3 separate regions of the Homo sapiens genome follow, and all the other regions are linked to region 1. The links come from fine-mapping of genetic effects on gene expression. A gene starts in region 1. Each other region holds a variant in brackets. All regions are shown on one strand. Distances are between the middles of the regions.

The links. PIP is the estimated chance that this variant, and not a neighbour inherited with it, causes the effect.
Region 2: its variant is fine-mapped to the expression of ADIRF-AS1 in skeletal muscle (GTEx, PIP 0.99).
Region 3: its variant is fine-mapped to the expression of ADIRF-AS1 in whole blood (TOPMed, PIP 0.94).

Annotation. Positions count from the first base shown.
Region 1 is chr10:86,966,493-86,974,667 of GRCh38, reverse strand. It overlaps ADIRF-AS1 (ADIRF antisense RNA 1), which reads left to right and starts at 3,428. Exons shown (of 2, transcript NR_170185.1): 1 at 3,428-5,626. It overlaps ADIRF (adipogenesis regulatory factor), which reads right to left and starts at 6,186. Exons shown (of 3, transcript NM_006829.3): 1 at 6,063-6,186; 2 at 4,406-4,468; 3 at 3,753-4,192. The coding sequence starts at 6,123. The coding sequence ends at 4,086. LOC124902474 reads right to left here and starts at 3,263. Exons shown (of 3, transcript XM_047426123.1): 1 at 3,104-3,263; 2 at 1,411-1,555; 3 at 1-499. The coding sequence starts at 3,263. The coding sequence ends at 388. AGAP11 (ArfGAP with GTPase domain, ankyrin repeat and PH domain 11) reads right to left here and starts at 4,332. Exons shown (of 11, transcript NR_171046.1): 1 at 3,753-4,332. RefSeq lists silencers at 2,951-3,500, 5,082-5,376 and enhancers at 2,699-3,898, 3,735-4,486, 4,487-5,240, 6,747-7,499, 7,480-7,659 and 1 more.
Region 2 is chr10:87,005,002-87,013,176 of GRCh38, reverse strand. AGAP11 (ArfGAP with GTPase domain, ankyrin repeat and PH domain 11) reads right to left here. Exons shown (of 11, transcript NR_171046.1): 10 at 5,471-5,522; 11 at 2,951-4,822. Among named protein-coding and RNA genes, the nearest start is that of FAM25A, 11 kb to the left of the region's middle. RefSeq lists a silencer at 679-879. The variant T/C (reference allele first, on the strand shown) is at 4,511.
Region 3 is chr10:86,934,349-86,942,523 of GRCh38, reverse strand. MMRN2 (multimerin 2) reads left to right here. Exons shown (of 7, transcript NM_024756.3): 6 at 1-207; 7 at 5,399-6,984. The coding sequence ends at 5,781. Among named protein-coding and RNA genes, the nearest start is that of MMRN2, 19 kb to the left of the region's middle. RefSeq lists enhancers at 1,655-2,155, 2,585-2,634, 2,778-3,072. The variant AGAC/C (reference allele first, on the strand shown) is at 4,581.

The DNA.
Region 1 (8,175 bases):
AGAGAAGGGGAGAGGAGGTGAAAGTGGAAGAATCTGCACCCTGCCTCATGTGTAGTCTGATGGGGGTCAAAGCTGAGAACTCCAGCGGTAGACGTTTGGGAGATTACATACAAAGAAGCTCATCCTACGGACTGAAAATGGGGATGAAGAAGAAGAGGGAGGAAGGAACGCCATCCAGAGAAAATGGTTTAAGGGAACACCTCCACCTGAAAATGCAGTCATTTGTAAGTGGAACCACAATGTAATGTTAGTGACTGTGTGTTTGGCTAGATGGGGAACTGGAATTTGGAGAATTAGGAATTATGTGTGGCATTGCTAATGGAAGAATTGATCTCTGGAGGACTGACTGACACCCAATAGGTGTAGTGTGGCCACAATCCTTCCTCCTCAGCCAGTCTGGGCTGTACTTGCTCCATGAACCTGGTGGAGACAGGCCTGGGCAGTATAAGCTCCCAAGGGCTCCTCTGGTGAAGCTGTCCTCACAGGGTTAACAAGCATTCTACACAGAAATATAGTTATAATTAAGCATTAACAGTTATAATTAAAAATTAACAGTTATAATTAAGCATTAATGAGGCTGTGCTTTAACTAAATTCCTTCTATAGAACTTCCCGTGGCACTGTATACTGACCATCTGCATCCCCACTGTTCCCACAGTTCGGCTTTCTGATGTTAGAATCATAGGCTTTTGTTTAGGAATTCCTTAAAACGTTTTTTTCGTTTGTTTTTTCAGTTTTTTTTTTTCCGAGACAGAGTCTCACTCTGTCGCCCAGGCTGGAGTGCAGCGGCACCATCTTGGCTCAGCAACCTCCACCTCCCAGGTTCAAGCAATTCTCCTGCCTCAGCCTCCCAAGTAACTGGGATTACAGGCGCACGCCACCAAACCCGACTAATTTTTGTATTTTTAGTAGAGACAGGGTTTCACTATGTGGCCAGGCTGGTCTCGAACTCCTAACGTCAGATGATCCGCCCACCTTGGCCTTCAGAGTACTGGGAAAACAGGAATGAGCCACCGCATCCAGCCTAAAATGTTTTTCAGATTCCAAATTCCAGTGAAACAAGTGACCCCAACCAGTTTGAACAGCCCAGAAGAACATAATCAGCATGAGAATACAGTTTTTTCATCTCCCTGGCCCCATGACTTCACTCCGCACTCTTCAACAAATCAACAATCTCCACACTTTGGCCTGCTCTAAAACTCTTAAGAACCCTAACCCCAAACTTCTCGGAGAGAGATTTGAGGTTTTCTCCCATCTTGTCTGGCAGCCCTGCGACTAAACCTCTTTCTTCTGCTGCAACCCGGTGTTTCGGGTGTATGGACTTGCCCTGCCATCAGGCAAGGGACCTATTACAGAGACACTGGCTCTGTGCCCTCTGTGTCCCAGACATGGTTCAAAAGGCAAGTCCCACCTGGCCCTGCCCTCCAGGGCTCCTAGTGTCGGGGGAGCAGAGGCACACAGGAACAGGCAATTGCACAGCGCCACCGGAGCACCAGCTCCATGGGGCTGGGGCAATGTGGAAGGGGCTGCATTGCAGAGATGGTTCCATGGTAAACCTGAAAATGAGAACTCACTGTCATCCATCAGGAGAACAAAAGGATGGTCCTCCATGCAATCATTTAGCCAGTGCTGCCTGAGCACCGCAGAAGACACAGAGCATGCACTAAAAAGGGACTGGTTACAGCCCCATGAACCACCACTATGGAGAAGCACACATGAAGGCTCATTGTGACTCTAAAAAGGAGGTACAGGGGGTGTGAGAATGTGTCACCAGGGGCCTGATGCATATTGTGTGTGTGTGTGTGTGTGTGTGTGTGTGTCGGCACACCCAAGGCCGCTGAGACCTGACGTTTGGAAGAGCAATAGGCAAGGGTGATTTATGGAGAGTATGCCAGGCAGAAAATGCCGCAGGTGTGAAGATACCGAGGCAGCAGGAGCATGATGGGAAGGTCAAGGTGGCTGAGATGGAAGGGAGGGGGTGTTGTGGGAACAGGCTGGAGGTCTGGGAGGCTCTGCCCTCATCAGCAGGTGGGCTTTTCCTTAGACTTGTTCCTCAGACTTGTTCCTCCTGTGGTTCCAAGTGGCTGGTTCTAGGGTTCCTTTCCAGCCACAAGGTGTCCAGAGGAAGATGAAGGGCGGCTTTTTTTTTTTTTTCTGAGACAGGGTCTCACTCTGTTGCCCAGACTGAGTGCAGCGGTCCTCGACCTCCCGGTCTCAAGTCATTCTCCCGCCTCAGCCTCCCAAAGTGCTGGGATTACAGGCTGAGCCACCATGCCCCGCCTTCAAGACAAGAAAAGCCTTTTCTAGAAGACTCCTGGCCTCAGGCCTGATCTCTCTCCTTGGCCGCACCTGGGTCGCACTTAAGGCGATCACTCACAAGGAGAACAAGTGAAAAGTCCCTTGGGATTCATCCCTGAGTCATAGGGGAATGATGCACACCAGAAGGATGCTGGGCTCTGCCAGTCCAGCCCCACCAGCCTCCTGGAGTGGCCCTGAGGCCGGCTCTCCAGACCCTAGGACCTGCTCCTGGAGGCAGGGGCTCCTGGAAGCGCCCCTGACACTGCTCCGGGTGTCTCTTCAAGGACTTTCCCACATTCTACAAAGAAACCTTTTGGGGACAGTCAGCAACATGTAACCGATAGTGGAACCAGGGCAGCCCTGGGTTAAGGGTGGTAGACACGTGCCCCGCGAGGGAGATCTCAGACTGGAGAAGGGAACGGCCTCCTAGGCAGACCTGTACTGCAGCATCTGGACTGGCAGCCAGGTTGGGGACTTCGTCCCCTGCTGGGAGGCCGGGGAAGGCAGGGAGCGCGCCTTGAGTCCGCTGACTAAATCGCCTCAGAACTGGGAAGCACCGCGTAGTCGGTACCTTTCAACAGAAACGCAGAGGCCACTGGCGCGCAGGAGGAGGCGACTGCAGGTGGAGGTAGTACCGGGGTAAAGACATGGAGCGGGTGGACGGGAACCGCTAGGGGCCCGCTGGGGCGTGAGGGGCGCGGGGAGGAAAGGGCCGCAGCAGCCCACGCCCCGCGCCAGGGCCAGGCCTCATCCGGCGCTCAACCAGTGCCACGTTGAGTCACCTACTGGCAAGGCATACACCGTACCGGGGCCACACGCGTGGACACGTGCCGGGGGGGTGCTGGGAACACCAGTCCATCCGGAACCCACTAGACAAAACCTTCCAGGGCCGGAGGTTACCGGTTTGTCCCGAAAGGAAGTGGTGTGGAAGGGAGGGGTCTCCCGCACGCGAGCGCGCACGTGCATGCCCCCCCCACAACCGTGCTTCGTTCTCACGTGCACGGCCCCGTGCCCCGAAGCCCCTCCCCGGGGAGTGGCGGGGCGGGACCCCGCCGGGCGGCAGCGCCCCACTCAACAAAGCTTCCCGCGGGCCCTGCCCCATGACTCACCGCTGGGTGGGGCGGGCACGCAGGCAACCCGCGGGCCGAGACGGGGTAGTGAGGGCCGGAAGCCCGGCTCCCGACTCCGCTTCGTCCCCACAACCTCCGGCCGCCTGAAGTCCTGAGGGGCCGTGGCCCTGGGTCGTCTCCCCTGTTCCCAGCCTCCAGTCGCAGCTGGCGGAGAGAAGTTCCCGAGGCCCCCCCGACTTGCAAGGTCCCTTGCCCCGCCCAGAGCTGAGCCTTCCGAGGATCTGAGGACCGAGTCCAGCCCAGCTCCCAGGAGGGGCCGGGATCCTGGGGCAGGGAATAAGGGGCAGGGGCTGGCTCTAAAGTCGGGCGGGAGAGGGGCACTAACCGAGATGGGGGCTGAGCCTCCGGTCTGGGAGCTTCGGGAGGCGCGTGGCGGGATGGAAAACATTCCTGAGACCGTTGGATTGGATTTCCGAATTTGGGAGGCTAGGACTCCGGCTACGGTGGCTCTGCTCTTGGGATGAGAGGACTGGGCCCAGCTTGCGAGGAATCATGAAGTGGACACAGGGTGGGAACGTGAATTTTAATGAGGGGGCAGACCGAGGAGGTGGTGGCTGCCCGGAGATCAGGGCCAGGCTGTGCTAGATGGCGCCTGGAAGGGGGGTCACCCAAGTCTCCCTGCTGTCATTTCAGGAGGCCGACCCAAGTCTCCCTGCTGTCATTTCAGGAGGCCGAATTTTTTCCCAATCCCAGAGAAGGTGTCAGAGGCCTGGTTAGCAGTCTTGTCGATGGTTTCCTGGGTGGTCTTGGCCAGCTGGTCCATGGCTGGGGAAGGGCGGGAGAGAGGGCAGGTCAGGCAGGGCCCGGGAACCACAGTGCCTGTAGGCTTAGCCTGGCCTGGGTCTCCCGGGGGACCTGCTTGGGGCATTGTGGACAGAGGGCTCTGCAGAGGAGAGGATGTGCCTGGGCCCCAGCCGGGATGGGGCGGGGAGTGGGAGGTGTGCTGGGGTTGCCCGCCTCCCTCCAGCCCCACCAGACCTTTCTGCCCCGCCTCTGTGGCCTGGTCCACCACTTGCTGAGCTGCCGCTCCGGCCGCTGACACTGGAACAGAGAGATGTGGCTTTTAGCCCCTGTTGAGGCACCACCGACTACAGGTGCCCCACCATTGCCATGCCTCTGTGTCCTCCAGAGTATTCGGTGGTACAGGTCCAAGGGATGGATGCCATGGAGATAAAGTCCCTGGCCCAGGGCCCCCCAGCCCGAGGGGCAGGAGACCTTTCCATGCCTCTGGGATGTTTTTGTTTATTTCTAACTCTGAGCTCCTTCTCTGTGGGGGAGGAGCTTCCCTTTCCATCTCCAGGGCTACTGAGAAAATGTTGGACAGAGGAAGGAAGGCAGGGCAGGGCCAGGCTGCAGCTAGCATCTGGACTGTTGGCTAATGCTGGTGATGGCGCAGAAGACCCTTGCCCCCTTTTACAGCTTCTCCCCTAGAAGCCTGGCCCAGATGCCTGAATTCCCACCTTTCATGCACTTAGCCCTGGGGCTTGCAGTTTTGCCAGGTCCTTACTGCCTCCTCCCTCCTGTGGCCTGCCCGGAGGGGCACACAAGCAAAGCCAGTGCCTCTGTGGACAGGCAGCTTAAGACATTAGGAGACAAATGAAGGAAGGAGGCAAAACTTCCAAGGCCGGACTATCTCCTCTGGACCAGAGTTTCGGCCTGCTGGGAATGGAGTCACCAGCCCCGGGGGGGCTGACAGGTGGCTCCCGCCTACAGAGCTGTAACTCATCCCTGCTGCTGAACAGGAAAGGGCCTGCCTTACCCAGATCCCATCCTCCGGAAAGGGTTAGTCAGGCAAGTGTGCTGAGAGGCCCCTGGGAACCTCGTCTCGATTAACCCATCAGAAAGCAGCCCATCCTTTGCACCCAGCTCTCAGATGGAAAAGTGAAGCCCAGAAGGAAGGGACCTGACACGGAGGCTTCCTTGGTAGCATTTCAGTCTCAAGGGAAGAACTGTGGGCCTCCCCTGGAGCACTGGTGAAGTAAGGGGTTGGTTTGGATATTGTCTCCTGACTGGGATATGGGCAGGACTGACAGGGAGCTGGAGTCCTAACGAAGCCTGGGCTAGGTGCAGGAAGAACCAACCCAGTGGTCTCCTGACATCTCCCACGCCCCCACCGCAGCTGGGTCACCTCCAGAATACGGAGGAGAGAGCTGGAGGTGGAGGAACTAAGGACCTTCTTTGCCAGGTGGGGACTTAAAGGTAAGGCGACGATTACTTTTCGGCGATGGGGGTGGGATGGAAACAAAGCCCTTTGAGGTCTGGGGCAGCCTCTGGTGGCGCGCGCGGGTTTAAGTGGTGGCGGGCCGCGCCCGATCCCTGTCCTGGACCTTCACCCTCTCCTGAGGGCCTGGGCGGGCCGCCCAGCGCCAGCATGGCCTCCTTGGAGGGGCTCCCGCAGTGCCCGCAGCGCAGCTCCGGCTCCTCCGGAGCCTCTGTTCCGCTGCCTCCCTGCGGGCACCATCTGTCTGCTCGCCGGGGTGGGCGTTCTGCCTGCCCCCTGCGTCTCAGTGGAGGACCGAGCCTTCCGAGCCAAGCTGCCGGTCCAGGAACTTGCGGACCGCGCCGACCCGCTGCTTCTGCCTGCGCATCCACGCAGGTGCCCCTGCCTGAGCCCTAGGTCGCGCGCTATCCTCACCGGCTTCCTGGGCGGTCCCCTCCACCTGTTGCTTCAGGTCCTGCAAGCCCTTGCTTGCCATGGCTTCGGGGTATCTGTGGAGTCGTCAAGAGCAGCTGGAGCGACGTTGGATCCTGCCCAGAGTGGCGATGCCAAGCGCCAGCTCCGGTTTTTAAGGCGCCCCAGGGCTGGCCTGCCCCGCGTAGGGGAGAGGGCGCGGGGCGGTTCCCGTCATACAGGCTCCGGGGAGTGGCCGGGCCCTGCTCCAGAGTCCGCAGGGCAGGGAGCACATCCTGGCCTAAGACGGGCCGCGGTGGGAAAGGGGCAGACCGAACCAGGGACCGAAGAGGTGCCAGGACAGGGGTCCAGAGAGGAGCTGGAGGCAGGAGAAGGGCGCACACCACCTCCCAGCTCATCAGCCCCAGCCCTCCCTTTCTGATCCTGGGCGTGAGCGCTGGGTCAGCTCCAGGGCAGGAGCTCAGGGCTGGTGTTGACCTTAATGACAGCAGTGGTCTTTTACTGAGCATTTGTCTTGTGCCAGGTGCTGCCTAACGCTCTGCAGTCTCTTGTATAATCTTTACAACCACCTCCTGAAGTGGGTATTTTTGTTGATAGCATCAGTGTATAGGAGGAAACTGAGGCAGTGAGGTCGGTCTCACCCAAACGCATGTGGCAGGGACTTGGATCCTCGAATCTGCCTAGGTGCCTGTAAACCCTAGGGCTCTGGCATCATCGGAGCCCCCAGCCCCAAACAGCTGCAGGGGCACTGCTGACTGGCTCTCTGCCTGTAGCCAGAGACCCAGTGGATGCAGCCGGAGAGGGCCTGGTAAATCTTTCCCCTGAGAGGGCGAGATACAGGTGTGTGCACTTGCAGACCATGCAACCCCAAGGGGGAGAGGGCAGTGTGCCTGTGCAGCCCAGGCAAGGAGATTGCCGTCTGTCACCGAAGCCTTAGGAAGTTGGGCAGGAAGCATGGCTCAGGGAGGGCAGGAATAAGCTTGGGCCTCTCAGGTCACCTTTCCTGAGATGGGGCAGGCAAGGCGCTAGAGAGTATGACTTGTGGCTGTTAGGAGGGGACTTAGGGACCTGGGCCTGAGTGGAGAAGATCATCCTTGGGTGCAGCAAAACAGCTTGCAAGATACATTCCCCTGGCACACAAGGGGTGTAGGTCAGGCCCCACCCAGCTGGGTATACTCCCACTCCAGAGTAGGCCTTCAGGACCTGGAGGCCAGTGCACACCCACCCTGCCTTTCTGGGTCTCTCTACCGCTTCCTGTCCGGGGCTGTTTCTTGCACCTCTGCTGGTGTCTCCCCTATTCTGGAGCGCTGGGAAGCCCCTGCCACACAGGCTTGGTCTGCTGGCACATACCCTGCTTCTAGTGCTGCGGGGTCAGCCCCTAGAGGGAGTTGTTTGGAAGTGCACCTGTACACACACACACACACACACACACACACACACACACACACACACACACACGGTATGGATTAATGGAGATGAGGTCAACCCTGGGCAAAGGGAAGAGGCAGGTGATGAGATTAGGTGGAGGAAGGGGGAGGGAGCAGGTCTCAGGCAAAACAAAGCGGCAGCAACAGTCCTCCCAGCCCCCCGCCCCTCCTCTCCCAGAGCGAGGCCTTGCCCTGGGAGCGGCCATATGGATGCCTTGGGGACTCTGGGGAGCCCATCTCAGCCATGCCCTGCCTGGCTGGCCACAGCCCTGCCAGCCCTCCTGAAATCCCACCGGTAGTGCCCAATAGCCAGGCAGGCCTTCGAGTGTTCCAGTTTATCACAGGCTGGTGGTGCCACTGGGCTCCAGGCCCCATGGGCAATGAGCTGTGAGCTGGACAGGAAGGGAGCAGCCTCTGTGGGAAGAGACAGCCAGCCCCCAGCAGATGGTGGTAGAGAGAGCTCCACGTGGCCCTAGCGGCAGGCACTACAGTCAAACCTCTTGGGTTCAGATATTCTTAGAGCAAGCCCCTCACTTCTCTGAGCCTCAACATCCCCATCACATCACAGCGTCTCCCCAAAGTGTGTGTGTGAAGATTAAATTGGCTGAAGGGTGCCCAGGACTCAGCAGTGGACCTTGTGAGAGCGTGCAGGGCACCAGGGCTTCTCAGACAAGGAGAGGCAGAAGGAG
Region 2 (8,175 bases), 39 kb before region 1:
CGGCAGGGATGTGTATGGCCAGACACGGTGGCTCACGCCTGCAATCCCAGCTCTTTGGGAGGCCAAGGTGGGCGGATCACCTGAGGTCAGGAGTTCCAGACCAGCCTGGCCAACACGGTAAAACCTCGTCTCTACTAAAAATACAAAAATTAGCCAGGCGTGGTGGCAGGCGCCTGTAATCCCAGTTACTCGGGAAGCTGAGGCAGGAGAATCGCTTGAACCCAGGAGGTGAAGTTTGCAGTGAGCTGAGATTGTGCCACTGCAGTCCAACCTGGGAGACAGAGTGAGACTCAGTCTCAAAAAATAAAAAATAAAAAATAATTTTTTAAAAAGATAAAATAGAAATCGTAGATGAATTCTTGGAACTGGGATTAATCAGAATATGGCAGATTAGCCTCCAAGATGGAATTGCTTTATTCTCATTCAAGGTTTCCCTCATTCTCCACTCTCCCCATGCTGGTCACCTTGCTGCTTGTTCCTCAAACACATATGAAATGCGTTTCTGTCTTGGCAGTCATCCTGCTACCTGTAATGTCAGCACTGCTTTCTGTTGTCCCTTCAGTCAGGTCACTGTTCAAATAGCTCTCTAGACAGGCTCTTCCTTATCATTCTACTTAAAATAGCCCCCAATCACTCTGTGTCCCTTTAGCCTGCTTCCTCTTCCTGCTATTTCATACTACCTGAAAAAATACTTGAACTTCCTAGAACATAAGCTCATAAAAGCAAGAACTGTGCTCCACCTCTCCTCCCCTCTACCCCAGCACTCAGAAGAGCAACAGGGTCAGCATCCAGTGAGTGTTCATGAATCAAGTCACTGCTTGGCAGAATTCAGCACTGGGACCACAGCCTCGCCTATCTTCAACTCTTTCTCCTTCTGCTTTTCCTCCTCCCACTCTAGTAGCCACTCTTCTGGGGACTTGTGCCTTAAATGATTAGTCCTTACCGACCTATTTTCTGTCCACTTTATCTGTTTTTGAGAGAGGGTCTCACTCTGTTGCCCAGGCTGGAGTGCAGTGGCATGAATATGGGTCACTGCAGCCTCCACCTCCTGGGCTCAAGTGATCTTCCTGCCTCAGCCTGCCATGCCACGTAACTGGGGCCACAGGCATGTGCCACCATGTCCAGCTAATTTCTTGATTTTTTTTTTGGTAGAAATGGGTCTCGCTTTATTGCCCAGTCTGGTCTTGAACTCCTACACTCAAGCAGTCCTCTCAACTTGGCCTCCCAAAGTGCTGGGATTACAGGCATGAGATACTGTACCTGGTCTTATTTTTTCTTTTCTTAAGATACAGGGTCTCACCATCTGGCCCAGGCTGGACTCAAACTGCTGAGCTCAAGCAATTCCCCCACCTCAGCCTCCGAAGTAGCTAGGACTAAAGGCATGAAACCACCATGCTTGGCTTGTCCAATTTCATTCTACACACTTTCTCGGTATTTAAACAGCTGCTGTTGCTCTTCATTCTGTAGCTCTACATCAGATTCATGCTCTAGTCCTGTATATCCAAATGATGACTAGAGGCTGCCGGCTCTGCTCTTTCAAAGCCACAATGAGTGTAGCCCGTCTACAAAACTCTCCCTTTTCCAATCCAGCTTTCCCTCCTGCATCACCTATCTCTCTACATCTGGAACCATCGGCAGCTGCCTTCATAAGGCACCTCGGTCTGGCATTTGGAAAACCACCCTGTCTTGCCAGAGCTGCTTGGTCTTGGGTAGCAAAAGCTGTATGCAATCTAAATCAAGCTTTCAATCATGAGAAATCACATTCCTTCTTTTCCCCTTGTAATATACTCGTGTGTTTTTTTTTTTCCTTTCTCAATAAGCAAATTGTACCACCATCTTATTCTGAGATGCTCCTTTTTAAAAGCTGTAGATCACATTAATGGGAGTGTTTACTGCTGGAAATATTTTCCATGTGCAATGATCTGTAACCCTCCTTTTCTTTTCTTTTTTTTTTGAGACCGAGTCTCGCTCTGTTGCCCAGGCTGGAGTGCAGTGGCACAATCTCTGCTCACTGCAAGCTTTGCCTCCTGAGTTCATGCCATTCTCCTGCCTCAGCCTCCCAAGTAGCTGGGACTACAGGTGCCTGCCACCATGCCCAGCTAATTTTTTTTTTTTTTTTGAGATGGAGTCTCGCTTGATCGCCCAGGCTGGAGTGCAGTGCTGCAATCTCAGCTCATTGCAAGCTCCGCCTCCTGGGTTCACGCCATTCTCCTGCCTCAGCCTCCCGAATAGCTGGGACTATAGGTGCCTGCCACCACACCTGGCTAATTTTTTTTTTTTGTATTTTTAGTAGAGACGGGGTTTCACCATGTTAGCCAGGATGGTCTTGATCTCCTGACCTCGTGATCTGCCTGCCTCGGCCTCCCAATGTGCTGGGATTACAGGTGTGAGCCACCACGCCCGGCCATGCCCAGCTAATTTTTTGTATTTTTTAGTAGAGATGGGGTTTCATGATGTTAGCCAGGATGGTCTCGATCTCCTGACCTGGTGATCAGTCCGCCTAGGCCTCCCAAAGTGCTAGGATTACAGGTGTGAGCCACTGCGCCCAGATCTGTAACCCTCTTATCTCAACTAGCTGACATTATTAGTTCACATCCAGTTCAATTTATAAATTAAGAGAGGTGCCATGGGCCGGGCACGGTGGCTCACGCCTGTAATCCCAGCACTTTGGGAGGCTGAGGCAGGTGGATCACGAGGTCAGGAGTTCGAGACCATCCTGGCTAACATGGTGAAACCACGTCTCTACTAAAAATACAAAACAATTAGCCAGGTGTGGTGGCAGGCACCTGTAGTCCCAGCTACCTGAGAGGCTGAGGCAGGAGAATGGTGTGAATCTGGGAGGCAGAGCTTGCAGTGAGCAGATATCATGCCACTGCACTCCAGCTGGGGCGACAGAGCAAAACATCGTCCAAAAAAAATAAAAATAAAAATGAAAAAGAGGTGCCATATGTACAAAAATCAATGCATATTTATGAACTTTTTTTCAAATATATTTTCACACATCTTATCTAAATACATAATACAGAAGCCTGTGTGACTTGGGCAATGTGGCCAGGAGGGCCTGAGACTAACACACCCACCTCGGCAAAAGGACATAAAATATGTCTTATGGTCAGAAAAATCAACATTTTGTGTATTTACTTAGTTTACGAAAAGTACTGAAAATGCTATTATTAGCTGAATTTGTGATTTCCTTTTGAAATTCTGAGTTATCCTTATTTTTCCCATTTTGTTTTTACACCAAGGAGACTGCAGTCAAATAAAACAGATACTACACGCACTCGTCGGGGCAGCCGTACTGCAGAAGCACGTTGATGCACTCCTGGCTGGAGGCCTGCCGGGCGTAGGTCAGCGCTGTGTTCCCGTGGGCATCTCGGGCCATGACGTCCACCCCGTACCAGATCAGGAGCTGCGCCAGGACCACATTCCCCTTGCGGCAGGCCAGATGGAGCGCCGTGCAGCCGTCTCCCTCCCCACAGGTCTCGTTCACCTCCTCACGGGAGCCATGTGCCAGCAGCAGGATGGCTGTCCGCAGGTCCTCATCAGCGGTGGCCCGCAGCAGGTGCTGGCCCAGGGACAGCTCAGTGCAGGGTAGTGGGGCCAGAAAGAGCTTATGCTCATATTTGGAACGGATCCACCGTTCCTTCTCTTCCCTCGTTGACTCTATTGAGGGTTTCGTCTGCCCCTGGCTGCTCCCTTCCCAGATGCTGTTGGCTAGGTCATTGCCAATAGATGACATAACCTTCCTGAGCTCAACTGGCCAGTCATCCAGCTCCAGAGATCGCACACGGGAAAGGCGGGTGCCAAGACTGCGGTGGATTCCTGAACATTCAATACACATGAGGACTCCCAAGTTCAAACTGGCCCACTTAGGATTCTGGGTCTCACAGTCCACGCAGTGGGAGTTCCCACGCATGTTTTGGATCGACTGCAGGGCCATGGCCTCACTCTGGCTGGTCAGCTGGGACTTGCTTTTACTGCTCTCGCATGACTGCAGGCTGGCCAGGATCTGGCTCTGGATGGCTTGGACCCAGGCATCCCGCTCCTCATACGTCGTGGCTTTAAAGTGGCACGTTTGGCCAGTGACGGACACAATCATAAACTTTTCTTCTTCTTCCTCAGCAGTGCTGGACAGGCCATCATCTTTTAAGTTGTTGGTGCTTTTCTTCTTTAGGTGTTTCTTTTTATTGGCATGAGGGGAGGGGGGCAGGTTGAGCTTGGGGCTGGTGGTGCTGGAGATACTGGGGCTGAAGCATATGGAGTCACCCAGCCCGATGTCTGAATTGGCTGACATATGCAGAGCTTCCATGTCCTTGGATAGGCCATTGCTTTTAGAGCTGGAGATGGGTGCGCAGGCCGATGTGGCTAGGGATGGCCACTTTCCTGGGACTTTGATGGTAGATGTCCGAAGGTCAATCTCTTTTTTATGAATATTCTTCATATAATCACCTAAGCTTGAATAATAGGTGAGCACGCCATTGGAACACAGGGTGACATATTTCTTTTTCCA[T/C]GTCTTCAGCCATTTCCCACTTCGCTTTAAGAGCATGCCCTGTTTAATGGGGATGGCTCTGCCGCTCCCGATGGTGTCAGCGTGACTCTCCAGGGCTTTCCTCCCTTTGTCTGGGTCACTCCCTTTCTCAGATGTAAACAGGTTGGACCAGCCCATGGACTGCTTGCAAATGGGCGTGGGTGTGTTGGCAGTGGGAGGAACACTGAAATAAAGGTCCTCCTGGCTGGTGCTGGGAGTCAATGGAATGGAGGAGGAATAGTTATTTAAACTCCCACCTCCATTTCTTTTCTTCGTAATGTGCACGGTGGAAAACTGTGTGGAACAGAAGAAGAATGGCTTCAAAAATTGGGTAGTGGCTTGCAGGGTCCTATAGACAGCTCACAATTACCTTTTAAAAAGATACATTTTCTGGGCCAGGCATGGTGGCTCACACCTGTAATCCCAGCACTTTGGGAGGCCAAGGTGGGTGGATCACGAGGTCAGGAGTTCAAGACCATCCTGGCCAACATGGTGAAACCCTGTCTTTACTAAAAAAAAAAAAAAAGAAAGAAAAAAGAAAAAAAAATTAGCTGGGCATGGTGGCACATGCCTGTAATTCCAGTTACTCGGGAGGCTGAGGCAGGAGAATTGCTTGAACAGGGACCTGGGAGGCAGAGCCTGCAGTGAGCCAAGATCGCACGATTGCACTCCAGCCTGGGCTACAGAAAGAGAGTCCATCAAAAAAAAAAAAAAAAAAAAGATACATTTTCTGTTGTTTGGATAGTATATTTACTCATACTAGCTCACTAACTAAACAGAGCCGCAGATCAGTTCTTACTCCAGCACATTCTTTTTACAACACTTAAGATGACTAAATGCAACATGAAATGGGGAAGATTTAAAAAAAGATGGCTTTGACTTCAGCATGAAACAGATACAAGTGTACGATGAAAATACAACCTCAATAAAAGTGCCACTTACCGCAAATGAGTATAACTGTTCATCAAGTATGGTCAAAGATCTATCTGCATCTCTAAAAAATAAGAAAGCGCATTACTTCAAAAACTGTTAATATCTTAGTATAATATTTGTTTAGTAAAATACTGCCTCCTGTGTGCTTTGGTGTTTACTTTACCAAAGCAGTTTTTACGAATTCTTCTCCTGGATCCTGACTTGCAGAGGGTTTCCTGACTTCTTCTTTCTCAGCACATCATGGCCTGTACCGTGAAGTCTTTTATATGATAACCAGTCAGAAATGCCCATGAGTATTGACTCTCCCTAACAGGCCATGGCAATAAGCCAAATATATTTTCACTCTTCTAACCACACATTGAAACACAAGAATGTTCTACAAAGCAGTAGTAGTAAACTTTAATAAATGTAAATGTGATTCAGATTTCCTAGCTTCCTTTCTCTTTAGTTCTCTGTAGTATACTCTCATGATGTATTTATGTATTTTCTGTTGTTTGAATGACAAACTCATCTGCCTTTTTAAGAGGCCAGTCTTTGATGAACTTTAAACTTTGTAAAACTAATGCATTGTGTCTGTGTATAAACCAGTGGTTCTCCAAATGTGCTCTGTGGACCTCTCAGGATCCTGAAGACCCCTTCCAGAAGGCCTAAGAGCTCATAACTGTTCTTTTTTTTAAAAAAAAAAAACAAGTTTTATTCTTGTTGCCCAGACTGGAGTGCAATGGTGTGATCTTGGCTCACAGCAACCTTCACCTCCCAGGTTCAAGTGATTCTCCTACCCCAGCCTCCCAAGTAGCAGGGATTACAGGCACCTGCCACCACTCCTGGCTAATTTTTGTATTTTTAGTAGAGATGTGGTTTCACCATGTTGGCCAGGCTGGTCTTGAACTCCTAACCTCAGGTGATCCGCTTGCCTCGGCCTCCCAAAGTGCTGGGATTACAGGCCTGAGCCACTGTGCCTGGCCAACACTGTTCTGAATCATACTAATTAAACCTGAGAAAGCTGATGAAAAATTTTAAAAATTTGTGAAAGTAATACAAAGTCATTGCCTGCTTTTTTATTGACACTTGCCATGATTGTATAAAAGCAAAAGTGGGTACAATGGCTGGTTTCTCAGCATAAATCAAGGCAGTGGTACCAATTACATTAGTAGTCTTTCTATTCTTCACTGTCCCCTACAGGTAAAAAACATAGCCTGAATTTCTTAAGAATGTCTTTGATGAAGCAGTAAAAATTAATGTTGTTAAATCTTGACATGTCTCTAATATTCTGAATAAGTGGAAAGTTAACGAGAAGCGCTTTTTTTTTTGTTTTTAAAGAATCCATGATTTAACTGTGAACTGAAAAATCACTTTTTTCACAGAACATCATTTTTATTTAAAAGTACAACTGGGCCAGTGCAGTGGCTCATGCCTGTAAAATCCCAGCACTTTGAGAGGCCAAAGCAGGCAGATGGCTTGAGCTCCTTCAGGAGTTCGAGACCAGCCTAGGCAACATAACGAAACCCTGTCTCTATCAAACATATAAGAAAATTAGCCTGGTGTGGTGCCACACACCGGTGGTCCCAGCTACACAGGAGCCTGAGGTGAGAGGATTGCTTGAGCTGAGATCATGCCAATGCACTCCAGCCAAGTGACAGAGTGAAACTTGGTCTAAAAAACCAGTTCAACTATCATTCTCAAAAATAAATGAAGTGAGAGGTTGTCACTTCAAGGGAAATACGTATTTGTTCCCAATGATAAAATTTAAGCTTTCCTGTGGACTTTGAAAAACTTCTTCCTTCTACTGTAGGCTTGGCAGCTTTTCAATACTTAAAGGCGTGTTAAACTAAGATTGGTGGTTAAACTAAAAGTGATTTTTGACACAATAAAACATAAACCAATATATTCCAAGTAACTAATGCATGATATTATAAATGCAAGTATGGAGCAAAAGATCCATTTACTGTGCAAGAAAGATCAATGAGTACTGATGGAATAAATTTATTAATATGTAAAATGCCACCGTAACTAATTTAAGAAACCACCACTTGTGAAGTTTTGATTTAGTGTTAACAAATACCCACAACTGTCTGAAAACTTTAAAAATACACCTTCTACCAACTACATATTTGCATGAGGTTAGGTCATCTTATTGCTTCTTTTTTTCTTTTTTTGAGACACAGTCTCTCTCTGTCACCCAGGCTGCGGTGCAATGGCGAGATCTCGGCTCACTGCAACCTCCACCTCCCAGGCTCAAGCGATTCTCCTGCCTCAGCCTCCCAAGTAACTGGGACTACAGGCGTGCACCACCATGCCCAGCCATTTTTTGTACTTTCAGTAGAGGCTGGTTTTACCATGTTGGTCGGGCTGGTCTCAAACTCCTGACCTCAAGTGATCCACCCACCTCAGCCTCCCAAAATGCTGGGATTACAGGTGTGAACCACTGCGCCCCACCAGCTTATTGCTTTTTTTGTTTGTTTGTTTAGACAGAGTCTTGCTCTGTCACCCAGGCTGCAGTGCAATGGCACGATCTCAGCTCTCTGCAACCTCCGCCTCCCAAGTTCAAGTGGTTCTCCTAACTCAGCCTCCAGAATAGGTGGGACTACAGGTGCGTGTCACCACGCCCAGCTAAGTTTTTGTATTTTTAGTAGAGACGGGGTTTCGCCGTGTTAGCCAGGATGGTCTCGATCTCCTGACCTTGTGATCCACCCGCCTCAGCCTCCCAAAGTGCT
Region 3 (8,175 bases), 32 kb after region 1:
TCTTTGGGAACTTCCAAGGGCTCATGGAAGCCAACGTCAGCCTGGACCTGGGGAAGCTGCAGACCATGCTGAGCAGGAAAGGGAAGAAGCAGCAGAAAGACCTGGAAGCTCCCCGGAAGAGGGACAAGAAGGAAGCGGAGCCTTTGGTGGACATACGGGTCACAGGGCCTGTGCCAGGTGCCTTGGGCGCGGCGCTCTGGGAGGCAGGTGAGTTCCTGGGCTGGGGAGACTGGACGAGCCTAGGAGGCCAGGGCCGGCTGCCGGCAGCTCTTCTGCCTCCAAGAGGGCCAGGAAGAAAGAGAACAGGATGGCCATCCGTCACCCCTACTAGGTCCACCTTCCCCTTGGCCCACCTGCTTCTCAGGGGTGTGGGTCTCTCAAGCTACCTGGCTTATGGGGAGACAGAAGTCACAAGAACCACCTGCTAGTGCCAGAGCCCGTGAGCGGCATAGCCTGGAGGCCACAGGCACAATAGTGCCGCCTACTGCTCCTGCTACAGAGAGGGCATCGCCTCCTGCCCTGCCAGGGCAGCCTTCAAGTCCCCCCATCTCATCTCTTCACCTCACCCCCTTCATTCCCATGTGCGTTTAAGCCACTGTATCTAGGAAGAATGTGGATAGGGACTGTGGCCACTTGCAGCCCCACTTAGTTCTGTTTCATTTTCCATGATTTTAGTTTTTTTTTTGTTTTTTTTTTCTTTTTCTTTTCTTTTTTTTTTTTTTTTTAAGATGGGTCTCACTTTGTCGTCCAGGCTTGAGTACAGTGGTGGGATCATGGCTCACTGCAGCCTAGACCTCTCCAGGCTCAGCTGATCCTCCCACTTCAGCCTCCAGAGTAGCTAGGACTTACAGGCATGTGTCACCATGCCTAGCTAATTTTTGTACTTTTTGTAGAGACAGGGTCTTGCTATGGTGCCCAGGCTGGTCTCAAATTCCTGGGATCAAGTAATCTGCCCACCTCAGCCTCCTAAAGTGTTAGGATTACAGGTGTGAGCCATGTGCCCAGCCTTGATTTCAGTTTCTTGCATCAACCACGATCAGAAAATAGGTGAGTACAGTACAATAAGATTTTGAGAGAGGGAGACACCACATTCATATAACTTTTATTACAGTATACTGTTATAATTGCTTTATATTTTATTATTATTGTCAATCTCTTACTGTGCCTAATTTACAAGTTAAACTTTGGCATAGGTATGTACATAGAGGAAAATAAATAGTATATATAGGGTTTGGTACTGTCTGAGATTTCAGGCACCTGCTAAGGTCTTGGAACACACCTCAGTGGACTGTACAGGGAAAGCCGTGGGCCCTGAAAGGAGCTCATTCCCTCTGCAAATACAGTTAACCTGTCTCATCGCTCTGTGCTAGTCCCCTTCCTGGGCTTTACCACAATGGCCCATCCCAACAGGTCAATGACACACTCATCAGCACTTCCATCTTACCTGAAACTGAGGCGCAAACACAAGTTTCCTGCTTGCACAGCTAGTGAGCAGCAGAGGAGCGCTGTCTTTAGGGTGCCGGTTCTTCACCTCCAGAAGGCCCTCCATGGCTGGTCCCTGCAGGGCCCTGGGCCTGGGAGCTGGCTTTGAGGCTGAAGGCATGTGCAACCAAGCTTCCCATCCCCTCCCTGAGTGTGGTCCCGGGAGGGGGACAACTAGGCTCTGTGTCTCAAGTGACTCTCTCTGCCAGAGGCTGGCCTTGGAGCTGTGGCCTCTCCCCACCCAGACACAGGGCTAAGTACAAGGCCACCATCTTGGCCATGTGCAGCCTGGCGTGTGGCAAGTCCAAGGCCTTGTTGAAGGTCCCGTCCCAGGCAGCCCCTGCCCCAGCTGACCCTCCCTATGGCCCAAGAGGCAATGTGGAGCAGTGGGAAGCACCCAGGCTCTGGCATCACTTGTCTGTTTCTTCCTCAGTAAAATGGCAGAATCCCTACCCATGTCAAAGTTTTGTTATGAAGACTGCTGCGTTTACCAAATACCTAGCACGAGGCTTACCTCATGTAGGAACGCAGTCAACGTTTTCCCATTTCCCCAGCATTTTCAGGGTTCAGGTTGTGTCCACCGACACTGACACTTCTCTCTTGTTTCCTCTCGTGCGTGGTGCAAGGCTTCAATATGCTGATGACTTTCAGAATTTGCCCCACGGTTTGGAAATGTGTTTACCACGACGATATTTATTTCAAAAAAATGTTGTTCTTAAAAACAAATTTCCAGGCCGGGCGCAGTGGCTCATGCCTATAATCCCAGCAGTTTGGGAGGCCGAGGCGGGTGGATCACTTGAGGTCAGGAGTTCAAGACCAGCCTGGCCAACATGGTGAAACCCCATCTCTACTAAAAATACAAAATTAGCCGGGTGTGGTGGCGGGCGCCTAATCCCAGCTACTCGGGAGGCTGAGACAGGAGAATCACTTGAACCCGGGAGGCAGAGGCTGCAGTGAGCCGAGATTGCGCCACTGCACTCCAGCCTGGGCAAGAAGAGCGAAACTGTCAAAAAAAAAAAAAAAATTAGCCCGGTGTGGTGGCAGGCACCTGTAATCCCAACTACCTGGAAGGCTGAGGCAGGAGAATCGCTTGAACCTGGGAGGCAGAGGTTGCTGTGAGCCAAGATAGCTCCATTGCACTCCAGCCTGGGCGGCAGAGTAGGACTCTGTCTCAAACACACACACACACACACACACACACAAACACACACACACACACACACACACACACACACCCCAAATTTCCCTTTATTTGTTTGTAGGAAGGCTGTAGGGCTTGAATGTGTGCCCTGCAGGGAAGCACACTCTGAGTTTGCACAGCCCTTCCCGCATCTTAGGGCCTGTCAGGCGCAAGGCTGGGTTGGGGTGGGGGTCTCTCTCTGCGGCGGAACTCCCTGCGCAGGCGCCCGGACGGAACGGCCGGAACGAGGGCCTAGCACCGGTAGAGGGCGCTGCGGGCCGGCCTTCCTTCGGCTAGGCAAGAGAACCACCTGCAGGGTGTTAGGGGAATTGCAGAGGCAGCCGCCGGCCTCTGACTTGGGCACAATCTTTTTTTTTTTTTTTTTTTTTTTTTTTTTTTTGAGACGGAGTCTCGCCCTTTCGCTCAGGGTGGAGTGCAATGGCACGATCTCGGCTCACTGCAACCTCCGCCTTCCGGGTTCAAACGATTCTCCTGCCTCAGCCTCCCGAGTAGCTAGGATTACAGGCGCCTGCCACCATGCCCAGCTAATTTTTGTAGTTTTAGTAGAGACGGGATTTCACCATGTTGGCCAGGCTGGTCTCTATCTCCTGACCTCGTGATCCGCCCACCTCGGCCTTCCAAAGTGCTGGGATTACAGGCGTGAGCCATTGCGCCCGGCATTTTTTTTTTTTTTTTTTTTTGACGGAGTTTCACTCTCGTTGCCCAGGCTGGAGTGCAACGGCGTGATCTCGGCTCACGGCAACCTCCGCCTCCCGGGTGCAAGCGATTCTCATGCCTCAGCCTCCCAAGTAGCTGGGATTACAGGTATGCCCCACCACGCCTGGCTAATTTTGTATTTTTAGTAGAGATGGGATTTCTCCATGTTGGTCACGCTGGTCTCGAATTCCCGACTTCAGGTGATCCGCCCGCCTTGGCCTCCCAAAGTGCTGGGATTACAGGCGTGAGCCACTGCGCCCGGCTGATTTGACACAATCTGAACACAAATGAGAAAGCTATTCTCAGCTGTCTAATTCTCAGAAAATCTTCCAGAACTAGAGAAAAGCAACATTTTTTTATTCACAAAGGCTTGCTGGATTGGGAGTCAAAGAGCTGAGGCTTGAGTTCCGGGACCCAAGTCAGTAATTGCTCAGCAAACTGCTCCTCTGAAGGCTTTGGTTTTATCACCTAAGAAATGGGGACCTTGTTTTAAACCCCTACAGAGGGAGCAAGTTGAGGAACCCCATGGTGGACATGACCTCGTTGGTGCCAAGGCCAGTGTCACAGCCAGGACCCAAGTAGGACTTACCTTTCCTGTGCCATCTCATGACCCTGTCCCCAGCTGCCCAACCATGCTGTCCAGGCAGCAGGACTGGCTTCTTCCTGGCTGTTTGTACACCCTCCACACATGGCAGCTTCCTCTGCTTCTGTGCCCGTGCATGGGCCTGGCACCAGTGTTCTGTCAGTGTTCCTGTCCTAAGGCTGGCCAAAGTGGTCCCTGCAGAGAACCAGAAGTCTAGAGATTCAAGGTCTGTTCCCAGGAGGCTTGGTAATTTACTAGTTGTGTGGTCTGGAGCAATAAGCTTTTTCTTTCTGGGCCTCAATTTACCCATATGTAAGATGACCAGCTTGGCCAGTAACAGTGGCTCACACCTGTAATCCCAGCACTTTGCGGGGTTGAGGTGGGAGGACCGCTTGAGCTCAGGAGTTTGAGACCAGCCTGGGCAACAGAGCAAGACTCTGTCTCTACAAAAAATAAAAAATTAGCCAGGCATGATGGCGTATGCCTGTAGACCCAGCTACTCAGGTGGCTGAGGTGGGAGGATTGCTTGAGCCCAGGAAGTTGAGGCTGCAGTGAGCCATGATCGCCAATGCACTCCAGTCTGGGCAACAAGAGACCCTTTATCAACTAAAAAAAAGA[AGAC/C]CAGCTTGAAGGGGCTTCTCTTCCCTGGCTCCACCTGCTCTTTCCTTCTTTCTCCAAGGTTCTGTCTTCAACATCCAGGAGGATCCAGCCTTCATGGCTCTGCAGATACCTTCCCAGTGTTAGCATTATTATTACCTTGAGGATGGATATTTTCTCCCTCTCCCCTGAGTATCTCAAGATTCCTAGCAAGTGGTGGTCGTCTGGGAGTCAGAGACCCGTGTTCCTGTCCCAGCCTGCCATTTACAAACCATGTAGCCTTGGGCAGCCGGTGAAGGATTCAACCTGTTTTGTCAATCAGGGATACTGTCTCTCAAGGAAGTTGGAAGGAAAAGGGATCAAACGAGAAAGTGCTTTGTGGCTGGGCATGGTGGCTCACCTGCAAGCCCAACATTTTGGGAAGCTGAGGCTGGAGGATCACTTGAGCCCAGGAGCTCCAGATCAGCCTGGGCAACATAGTAAGACTCCATCTCTACGTTAAAAAAAAAAAAGGGCTGCAGTGAGTCATGACCACTGCTGCACTCCAGCCTGGGAGACAGAGTGAGTCCCTGTCTAAAAAAAAAATGAAAGTATTTTGTTAAAATGTACACCAGCTCAGACAACAGACTTGCATTTTCCTTCCTCTCTATTAGTGAAAAACAGAATTGGCCATCTAGCTTTTCTCCTGCAATAACACTGCTGTTGGGAATATCTAGGTTATCTAGAAATAGTGACCTATTTCCATTGCTAATAAGGTGAGGACGGTAGGTCTCAGGGTTTAATTTCCCACCCAATGGTGTAAGGGATGAATCACTAAGCACTGTCCTGTTATGTTTCAGGATCCCCTGTGGCCTTCTATGCCAGCTTTTCAGAAGGGACGGCTGCCCTGCAGACAGTGAAGTTCAACACCACATACATCAACATTGGCAGCAGCTACTTCCCTGAACATGGCTACTTCCGAGCCCCTGAGCGTGGTGTCTACCTGTTTGCAGTGAGCGTTGAATTTGGCCCAGGGCCAGGCACCGGGCAGCTGGTGTTTGGAGGTCACCATCGGACTCCAGTCTGTACCACTGGGCAGGGGAGTGGAAGCACAGCAACGGTCTTTGCCATGGCTGAGCTGCAGAAGGGTGAGCGAGTATGGTTTGAGTTAACCCAGGGATCAATAACAAAGAGAAGCCTGTCGGGCACTGCATTTGGGGGCTTCCTGATGTTTAAGACCTGAACCCCAGCCCCAATCTGATCAGACATCATGGACTCGCCCAGCTCTCCTCGGCCTGGGGCTCTGGCCAAGGATGGGCTGGAGGTCATTCAGTTGGTCTGTCTCTTCCCTGGAAACCTTCTGCAAAGATGGTGTGGTGTACGTGGCTTCCCTGTAACCACATGGGGCTTGGCCATTTCTCCATGATGAGAAGGACTGGAATGCTTCTCCGGGCAGGACATGGTCCTAGGAAGCCTGAACCTTGGCTTGGCATGCCTTCTCAGACAGCACGGCCTGGGCTCCAACTCTTCACCACACCCTGTATTCTACAACTTCTTTGGTGTTTTGCTCCTCCTGTGGTTGGAAACTTCTGTACAACACTTTAAACTTTTCTCTTGCTTCCTCTTCTCTTCTCCCTTATCGTATGATAGAAAGACATTCTTCCCCAGGAGGAATGTTTAAAATGGAGGCAACATTTTGGCCAACATTGGAAAGCACTAGAGGGCAATGGGATTAAACCAACCTGCTTGGTCTCTATTAGTCAGTAATGAAGACGACAGCCTGGCCAACCAAGGGAAAGGAAATTAGTATCTTTAGTTTCAGTCATTCCTTGTAGGATATGGTTTAGCTGTGCCCCCACCTAAAATATCATCTTGAATTGTAATCCCTATAATCCCCACATCAAGGGAGAGATCAGGTGGAGGTAATTGGATCTTGGGGGCGGTTCCCCCATGCTGTTCTTGTGATAGTTCTCACGAGATCTGATGATTTTATAAGTTTGATAGTTCCTCCTGTGTTCATTCTCCTTCCTGCCACCTTGTGAAGATGCCTTGGTTCCTCTTCACTGTCTGCCATGATTGTAAGTTTCCTGAGGCCTCCCCAGCCATGTGGAACAGTGAGTCAATTAAACCTCTTTCCTTTATAAATTATCCAGTCTTGGGCAATTCTTGATAGCAGTGTGAAAATGGACTAATACACTTGTGTTTATCTGTAATTTAAATTTCATGTCTTTTTCTCCTTGCCTTACATAGGGTAAAGACCAAGAAATGCCAAACGTGAACTAAAATATGTAGGGCCTTCAACTTTTTTACTTCCTCCAGTATCTTAGGACCATCGTAATTCTTGTTAGCATCTCTAACCAGGAGGCAGCTGAGGGAGGAGGGAAAGAAGACTGTAAAAATCCCCCTCACTAATGATCAACTTTGGAATAAAGTGATGCCCTTCAAATCTCTGCCTCATTTACTTCTGGAGGGCAAAAATAATTGGTAGAGTAGGTAAAAAAAACATGGGACAACGTGAAACTATGTGGGTAAATGTGACTGATTATTCCAGGCCCTGTTATGTAGAATGATTTCCGTTTATTCTATATAAAACACTTGGAAGTTTCCACACTAGGCAAAGATACTAATACTGGACTAGACAGTACAGCTCATAGCTGCAATTATTCCTGTAATATACCAGCATATGGTTTTCAAAAAAGTTCAGATCCTATAGCAAACTGGCCTGAGAAAACAGTCATCTAGCTATCAGAAACAAGGTTTTTTTTGGTATTAAGTACTCAAAATTTGTTGAATATAGTCTTCTCTATAAGAAAATCAGATTGCTGAGGCAGGAGAATCGGTTGAACCCGGGAGGCGGAGGTTGCAGTGAGCTGAGATGGTGACACTGCACCCCAGCCTGGGAGACAGAGCGAGACTCTGTCTCAAAAAAAAAAAAAAAAAAAAATCAGACTGGACTTCGTAGTGAGTTGCTTGTTGGCGTTAACAAGGTTATCAGCACTTCTCATTGTTTGCTAGGAGTTATTACTTCACTTGTTCCTCAGAATTTATTTAGCACTAAGTTTTGTGCACTCAATGTGCTAAAACATCGGTGTTAAAAGGAACAGTATGCCAGGCCACACTGCTCATGTTTGACCTGGGGTAAATCACAACCTCTCTTGAACTTTGTCTTTAGTGTGAGGTGGTTGATCTTACAGCTCTAATTAGGTATTCTGGCATTCTTTTTTGAGACGGAGTCTTGCTCTGTCACCCACGCTGGAGTGCAGTGGCGCAATCTCAGCTCACTGCAACCTCTGCCTCCCAGGCTCAAGCAATTCTCCTGCCTCAGCCTCTCGAGTAACTGGGATTAGAGGCACCCACCACTATGCCCGCCTAATTTTTGTATTTTTAGTAGAGACAGGGTTTCACCATGTTGGCCAGGCTGGTCTTGAATTCCTGACCTCAAATGATCCTCCCACCTCAGCCTCCCAAAGTGCTGGGATTACAGGTGTGGGCCACCACGCCTGGCCTCTGGCATTTTATTATCTTAACCACAGGTTTAAGTATCACCCACCCCCGGTGCAGCTCTCAGTTACCAAGACCAATTCTGCCCCAAGGCATGAAGCAGACGGCCACGCCAGAACAAAGATTAGAAGCCCAG